2 linked regions of the Homo sapiens genome follow. Changing the gene in region 1 together with any one later gene gives a genetic interaction. Each region holds a gene or a part of one and is shown on either strand. Other genes may lie near its edges. The genes, in order: MED13 and RB1.

Region 1 (3,831 bases):
TGGTGTCTTGTTCTGTTTTACTCTGCTTTTCCTCCAAATTACTTCTTACTATCTATTATATGCTTTTTTGTTTATTTCCTATTTTCTCCACTAAATTATAGATTCAAAAAGGGCAAAGAATATGTGTGCTTTGTTCAACAGTGAATCTAGGCTAATACCTGGCACATACAAGGTGCCCAGTAAATACTTAATGAGTGAAAGAATGTTGAATAAAGCAGACCACTAGCAATGTTATGCTAATAAATATATGGAATGTGCCTTTCATATTCCTACATAAGTATATAATTACAGATTTATAATAACCATACTTTTATTGGTGAAATTAAACTAAACTGCTAAGAAATTCTCCCTTTAAAAACATCATCCATAAAGAGTTTTAAGTCCAACTTTAAATGTATTTGCCACATGGGAAACTGCCTTTATTACTTTTTCCTAAGAATGTAACTAAAGGGAAATAAGCAAACAAAAAAGTATTTTATTGGCATACTTTACCGTTTCTTTTGGACCAGGGGTGTAAGCATGAACTTTTCACAAGTGCTTCATCAACTTTTCCTCCTGACATGTTATCCATGAACTGACGCCCATGTTCTAATGCAAGGTAGCAGTCATTGCAACAGTCACGCTCTTCAACACGTACCCAATTGCTAATTACACCACTTTTAGGAAAAGGATCTTGGTCTGCTGCTCCAAAGGGTGAAAATAAATTAGTGCACTGATCTTGTAGCAATAATATCAAATCATCAGATAATTTTTCAGATTCCTTTAGTCCTCCATTAACATGTTCAGCAGAGGTAGCCCTGAGAGCTTCAAAACGTTTTTCTGCTTCTTTGCCACAGTCTGTATTGCGTCCTATGATATCTAGTTCATCTTCAAGAAATAATCCTGAATTGTTTCCAAATTTTCTGTTCATGACAGCACTGAAGCCACAGGTACACCTATATTGTGCTTCCTGCGTTGGATCTGGAATGTAAACTCCAACATCGGCACCCTTGATGTTCATGTTGCAAACACAGATGCAACAACTATCAAAGTTACAGTCTTTAAACAAATTCATAACTGATTCTGAAAGGATGAGGTTTACATAAAGACTGTGTGCTTCAGGGATGGAAGGGACAGTTGCAGGTTCAACAGAATTAAGGGGTCTGCATGTAGATGGGGTAGAAGCTGGTGAATACAAGTCTGAATTTTCATATTTGACTGAACCTTGAGCACTAGCAGGTCCACCAGCTCCACGAGGAGTCCGAGGAGTCCTTGGAGTCCTTGGAGTTGGAAACCGAGGGGTGGATGGAGAAGGAAGAATTCCTGCTCCGCTGTTACTAGGAGGTGCACTGCTAGGAGGCATCCCAAAAGAAGTATGAGTTTGAGGTGTATAAGCAGTGCCATATTCTTGATCCATATTACTTCCATCACTATCATCACCAGGGTAAAAGAAGATCAAATATATATATAAAGGAACATATTAGTAATGTGAAATACAACTAAAAACGTCCCAAATGTTTTTCAATTACATAGAAAATTATGAAAGGACAAGTATTGCAAGAATTACAAGCACAGTCAATTCTTATTTCTGGTTAACATATCTACTCTAAGTGATTGTTGTTGACTAAGGATCAATTAACAAGTTCAAAAATCATTAATAAGCACTCTATACACTAATGCATACCTAGACATCCATATTTACTATCTATAAATTTTGTTTACTAGAAATACTTATATTTCCTTGATTCTAAGATGCTACTGACTATAAAAAAAGAAAAATGATTTTAGAGATGCTCATGTGTAAAAAGGGAAAAATGGTAATTTTAAAATGCTACCACTTATAAGACATCTCAGATTCAGATTTCTTTTAGCCTTGAGTTGAAACTGACCAAGTCAGAGATGTTAAAATGTGAAAAGTGTGGAAAAGATGGCAAATGTAAAAATGGGAGCAATTTAAAATTGCAGCCCAAAAGAAAAGGTGCTTCGGAATACAAATCAAGCATAATAGTCTTAAGTTTCCTAATAGTTTATCCATACCCAATTAACCTTTTTTTTTTTTTTTTTGAGACAAAGTCTCACTCTTGCCCAGGCTGGAGTGCACTGGTGCGATCTCGGCTCCCTGCAATGCCTGACTCCCAGGTTCAAGCCATTCTTGTGCCTCAGCCTCCCAAGTAGCTGGGACTACAAGCATGCGCCACCACGCTTGGCTAATTTTTGTATTTTTAGTAGAGACGAGGTTTCGTATGTTGGCCAGGCTGATCTCAAACTCCTGACCTCAAGGGATACGCCTGCCTTGGCCTCCCAAAGTATGGGAATTACAGGCGTGATTCACTGCTCCCAGCCAATCACTATAATTGATTAACCAGAAATAATTTTTAGAATTTTCAAAAACCAATTTTATTTTTCCAGCATACCAGGTAAATCTATGAAAAAAAAATTAAAGCTGTATAAGCAGTCACATACTATTGTAACAACATAAATCATACCCCTCTTTGATGAATGGCATTGAAGGCCCTGAAGAAAGCAATTCCAATTTTCCAACAGTCCAACTCTGACGGTAAATACACTCTTCTGGCAATTTGATAGGGGGCAGATATTGGCTTGGTAGAGTTTTTAGAGGTGCAAACATGGAACATCCCACTAGAATTTGACAATTTTCAGGCTTATAGACATAAGAAAAATCCTACAATATAAAGATGGTAGGTTTTCAGTATCTTATCTTCTAGGAGGAAAAAATAAATAAACAAACAGGCTCTGGACCTTTTTTCCTTTCTTTAAACAGAATAAAATCTAAATACAATTCTATTATTTTCTTAAATGCATTCTTAATAGTGACAACAATAATTCAGTCCTCAACTTAGCTACAAAACCGCAACCACTATAAAATAATTTTTGACTATAGCAACAAATTAATTCTATAAGAAAATATAGGAAGTGAATTATTTTTCTAGAAAAAACATACTTACTTTAATTTCAGAAGGTTTGGGGCTACAGAATCCCTCATCAACCTCAATTTTGAACTGCGCTCCTATACTAGAACTATTTCCTTCTAGAACAGTTCCTCCAGGTGTTGTATCCATACTACCATATTCTTTATTATTCATATTCATTGGGGAAAATCCCATAATATGTTGTTCCAATGATGGTGGTGTAGGATACATTTTATGAAGATCTGCAGTGCCTATATTTAATAAAAACATACATTTTAACATGACTAAAAATAGGCGAATCTGTGTTTAAACCAAAAGGAGTGGGGAGCTTTGTTGAGATTAAAAGTTCGCAAATTTATCTCGAGCACAGATGAGGGAAGCTTACTTATGCAAGATAACGGGTCCAGATTTCCTGTCTTTGATTCCTTGCAGCTGGCTTTATCATCTGATCCATTTGCTGATTTTTTAGATCCAGGCTATTTAAAAAAAGCACATATTTATCTAAAATTTTACATCCAATGTGATCTCAAAATAGTAATCATTCAGATATAACTTAACAGTAAAGCCCATTCATTAAAAGTAGTATTTTGAATCTGTGATACAGCCAAATACATACTAGTGTTGAAAGATATAAAATATTTCTTAATCACTGACTCCAGATTAATTTATTTGGTAAGCCTCCAAATTAAAAGGAAAAAGTTCCTCCAAAGAAAATGACCAATACTTTCAAAATACACAGAAGTAAGGTTAACCTTAACTTAAAACCCAGTAATAAGAGGCCGGACATGGTAGCTCACACCTGTAATCCCAGCACTTTGGGAGGCTGAGGCAGGCAGATCAATTTGAGGCCAGGAGTTTGAGACCAGCCTGGCCAACATGGTGAAACCTCATCTCTACTAAAAATACAAAAAATTAGCTGGGT
Region 2 (3,831 bases), on another chromosome or scaffold:
AATGTACAGTTTTAACCAATACAAAAAAGCAATAAAGCAATAATATCTGAAGCATTATTTAAGAAATCTCAATACACGATCTCTGAAGTTCCTAAAATTCTGGCACTAATTCTAATGTGAACTTAGTAGCAAAAGACCCAGAAATAGTAAGCCCTTGACCTAAAAACTAACTGATTTGTATGATATTCATGCAGAAACAATGATGAAATGGAGTCAAGTTTTCTAGTGTCATTGTTATCAAAATAACTGTCAAAATAGTAAGTTTGAAACTTAAATGAGCACAAAATAAAATTTTGTTTTCTAACAAGACCAGATTTCTTTTTAAAAATAATTCTGAGTTAGACAAAGTGATTTTCCTAAAAGCTAGCTGAAGCTACCTTAAATATCCCCTATTTTAAGTTACAGCATCTCTAAATAAGTTAATCACACAAGATAGTTTAAATACACCTTTAGGTGTAGGGGAGGGGAGAAGCGCCTCTTTTTCTAATGCAGCTGTTTTAATTTGAAGCTTTTGCACAAAATCAGATAGAAACATTAATGCCTAACCCATAATGACCCTTGATTACTTGTAATTTTGGACTAGAAATAATGTGGCTTTGAACATGCCAGTGTTAGACCATACTGACTTAAAAAAATAAAAGATAAATAGACAATTGCCAGTTCAAAAGATACATGGAAGACATGTACCATTCCAGAGAAAACACAAACCTTCCCAAATTAAGGAGGGCAGAATAATTTTGAGATGCAATTAGACAAATCTCTATGAAAAAAAAATTAAGGCTCCTATAATTAACAGTCTGTTTATGGAGTAAAATTAATTTGTATCTTAATTCTTCAGGACCCAGAAACATTAGAAAGTGCACTTGGGATATACTGTGTTAGGGTCCTCTATACCTAAGATCTGGCAGAACACTTTACTTTTTCAAGTACTAGATGGGTACTTTATAAATTCAGTGATCTGAATGGTATAAAAACCAAGAGTACTATCAATAATCCTCATTTAAAAACATAAGTTGGATGAAGAAAATAATCAGTAAGTTCTTTTACATTCTGAGGTATGAAATCTGTTTCAGTAGTATGATAGTATCATATGGTTATACTTTGCTTCCAGCTTTTATTTAATTAAAAGCAAAATTTTATAAAACAAGCACACAGTATATCAGATTCCAATAGTAAAATAAAATCTAATGTGTAAAATTAGTAATTTTTTTCTAATTTCTAATAATATCCATTTTTGCAGAAGAGTTCAGGATAATTTTGGTGAATGGGCAGTCAATCAAATTGCATTTGGAAGATAGATAGGACACATTTTCTAAGGGTGTTCATGTTAAATTAAAAAAATATACATATAAATTAATAAAAACAAGAGCAAACATCACCTATATGCTACAAAAGAAGGCAAAGTAGTCAGACAGGCCTGGGTTATCAGGACTCCCACTCTAGGGCCATTCTTACTATCCATAAAGCACAGCAATTTTACTTTGGAAGAGGAAACAATCTGCTACAACTTTTTAAATGGCAGGATTTACACAAGATTTTCAATCTTGTATAAATAACAATGACTAACATTTCAAGTGGCTTAGGAATCACCCAAACAATTGCATCTGCACATTTTATATCCACAAAAAGAGCTGAAGATATTAAATGTGGCCATAAACAGAACCTGGGAAAGTTATACAGTCACATCTGTGAGAGACAATGAATCCAGAGGTGTACACAGTGTCCACCAAGGTCCTGAGATCCTCATTTCTCTTCCTTGTTTGAGGTATCCATGCTATCATTCATTTTCTGCTTTTGCATTCGTGTTCGAGTAGAAGCTGGAAAAAGGATGAAGAACTGTTAACAGCATTGATGGTACTGGGTAAGTTGGCAAGTGGCTGCCATATATATTATGCTCATGTCAAACTGATGGCGCTCAGGACCTTGCAAAAGCAGTGGTCTTCATTCTAGTATTTGACAGTACCGTAGGGAGTTACAGTTAATTTACTGCATATTTCAAAATAGCTAGAATTGTAATGTTCCCAATGCAAAGAAAAATGTTTGAGGTGATATATATCCCAATAACCCTGATTTGATCATTACACATTGTGTACACGTATCAAAACATCACATGTACCCCTAAAATATGTATAACTATGATATATCAATTAAAAAAAAAATTCCCTCCCCACCCCCCAAAAAAACAGTGGTCTCCAAATCTTTAAAAATCATATATCCCTGTGAGTAAATTTTTTTCCAAGCCTGTACCACAAAAATACGTATGTATGTACAAATTATAAAACACATACCCCAAGCAAACATTAAAATGAGATAAATAGAACTTCTACTTTATGTACCCCAAAAGATGACTTTGCATACTTCAGGTATGCCCCATTTTGTAGGCCACTATTCTAGAGATGAGGTGGTTGATGCTTGGCATATACTTCAGCAGACTAGAATACTCGGCTGGCCCAGACTGAATCTGCCAGAGTGAGTGGTGGTATTCTTTACAAAGCTATAGGTTCCCTTATGTTTGCAGATGCCTTGCAGGTACTGCAAATACATCAAATCATAGCTCATTTAAACTGGGCATGGATTTTTTTTTTTTGAGACAAGGTCTTGCTCTGTTGCCCAAGCTGGAGTGCAGTGGCATGATCATGGCTCACTACAGCTTTGACCTTCTGGGCTCAAGCAATTCTCTCACCTCAGCCTCTCCAGTAGCCAAGACTACAGGCACATGCCACCAGGCCTGGCTAATTTTTGGATTTTTTTGTAAAGATGGGGTCTTGCTATGTTGCCCAGGCTGGTCTTGAACTCCTGGCCTCAAGCAATCCTCTCACCTTGCCCTCCCATAGTGCTGGTATTACAGACATAAGCCATCATGCCTACCCGGGGCATGGCCATGTTAAAAGCATATTATGAATTACAATATAGACAAAGCCGGGATACTTATTAAATTTCTTAAAAATTCTTAACTTGATTTTAGAGGTAGGCATGAGTTCTTTATAAAGAAGCACATTTGGAAAAATGGAATGCCCTTCCATTCTGGGCAATCCAGCATTGTATGATGATCTTTTCTAAATGTAATTCTTTAAGAAAAGCTGAAGAGCATCCTAAAGAAATGCCTTAGCCTCAGGGGTTAAAATTCTGCCTGCTTTGTCACAATTTTGTAGATGCACAAAGGTCCTGAACTTTGGCCTGGCAGAGGAAGCTCGCCATCATAGCTAAGTGTGTCACTGGGAAATGTACTAACTATAGCAACTGAACACTTCTCTAAGAAAATATACATGTTTTTACAGCTTTCAGCTCCTTTTTAAGTGCATATTTGTGGGTTCCAAAATGTTTCCATATGTCTTCAAGGCCTGATTTTGGTTATGAGCCTCTTGTCTATTTTCATGTACTGAGGGGAAAAGATGCAACTATTTAAGAGTTAAAATAGGAATATGTAAGTTGACATAAAATCCAAAAAGAGATTCATTTATAACTAGAAAATTTTGTTTTAGTTATTTAGTTTTAATTACACTTTAAAAAAATACATAGAAAAAAAGCATCCTTTTAAATATCTTATTTTCAAAGTTAGTATCTACAAAGATGTATTAAAAGAAAGCCTCTCATTTTAATTGGTATTGTTCTCATTAGTGTGTCCTGTGACCTAGGAATGATTGTTTTAACACCTATCTCCTGAATATTTGTCTTCTTTCAAAATCCCAGTTCCTTTTCCTATCAATGGATCTGGCAGCAGATACTGGGAAATGTTACACTCACTACCATAACTACCTAAGACAACCCAATAGTAGTTAGTGAACATTTATCTCTTTCCTAATGTGCTTTCCATCTACTATCCTTGGATTA

What was found.
Region 2: changes in MED13 (region 1) and RB1 together harm fitness more than expected from each alone (negative genetic interaction), as found in Homo sapiens cells (one large-scale study listed by BioGRID).

The regions. Positions count from the first base shown.
Region 1 is NC_000017.11:61,981,706-61,985,536, forward strand, and holds part of MED13 (mediator of RNA polymerase II transcription subunit 13), read right to left. Parts: intron 3,386-3,831; coding exon 3,295-3,385; intron 3,161-3,294; coding exon 2,946-3,160; intron 2,663-2,945; coding exon 2,466-2,662; intron 1,410-2,465; coding exon 493-1,409; intron 1-492. UniProt on the Homo sapiens protein: Component of the Mediator complex, a coactivator involved in the regulated transcription of nearly all RNA polymerase II-dependent genes.
Region 2 is NC_000013.11:48,477,984-48,481,814, reverse strand, and holds part of RB1 (retinoblastoma-associated protein), read right to left. Parts: intron 1,837-3,831; coding exon of another isoform or gene 1,818-1,836; coding exon 1,744-1,817; 3' UTR 1-1,743. UniProt on the Homo sapiens protein: Tumor suppressor that is a key regulator of the G1/S transition of the cell cycle. The hypophosphorylated form binds transcription regulators of the E2F family, preventing transcription of E2F-responsive genes.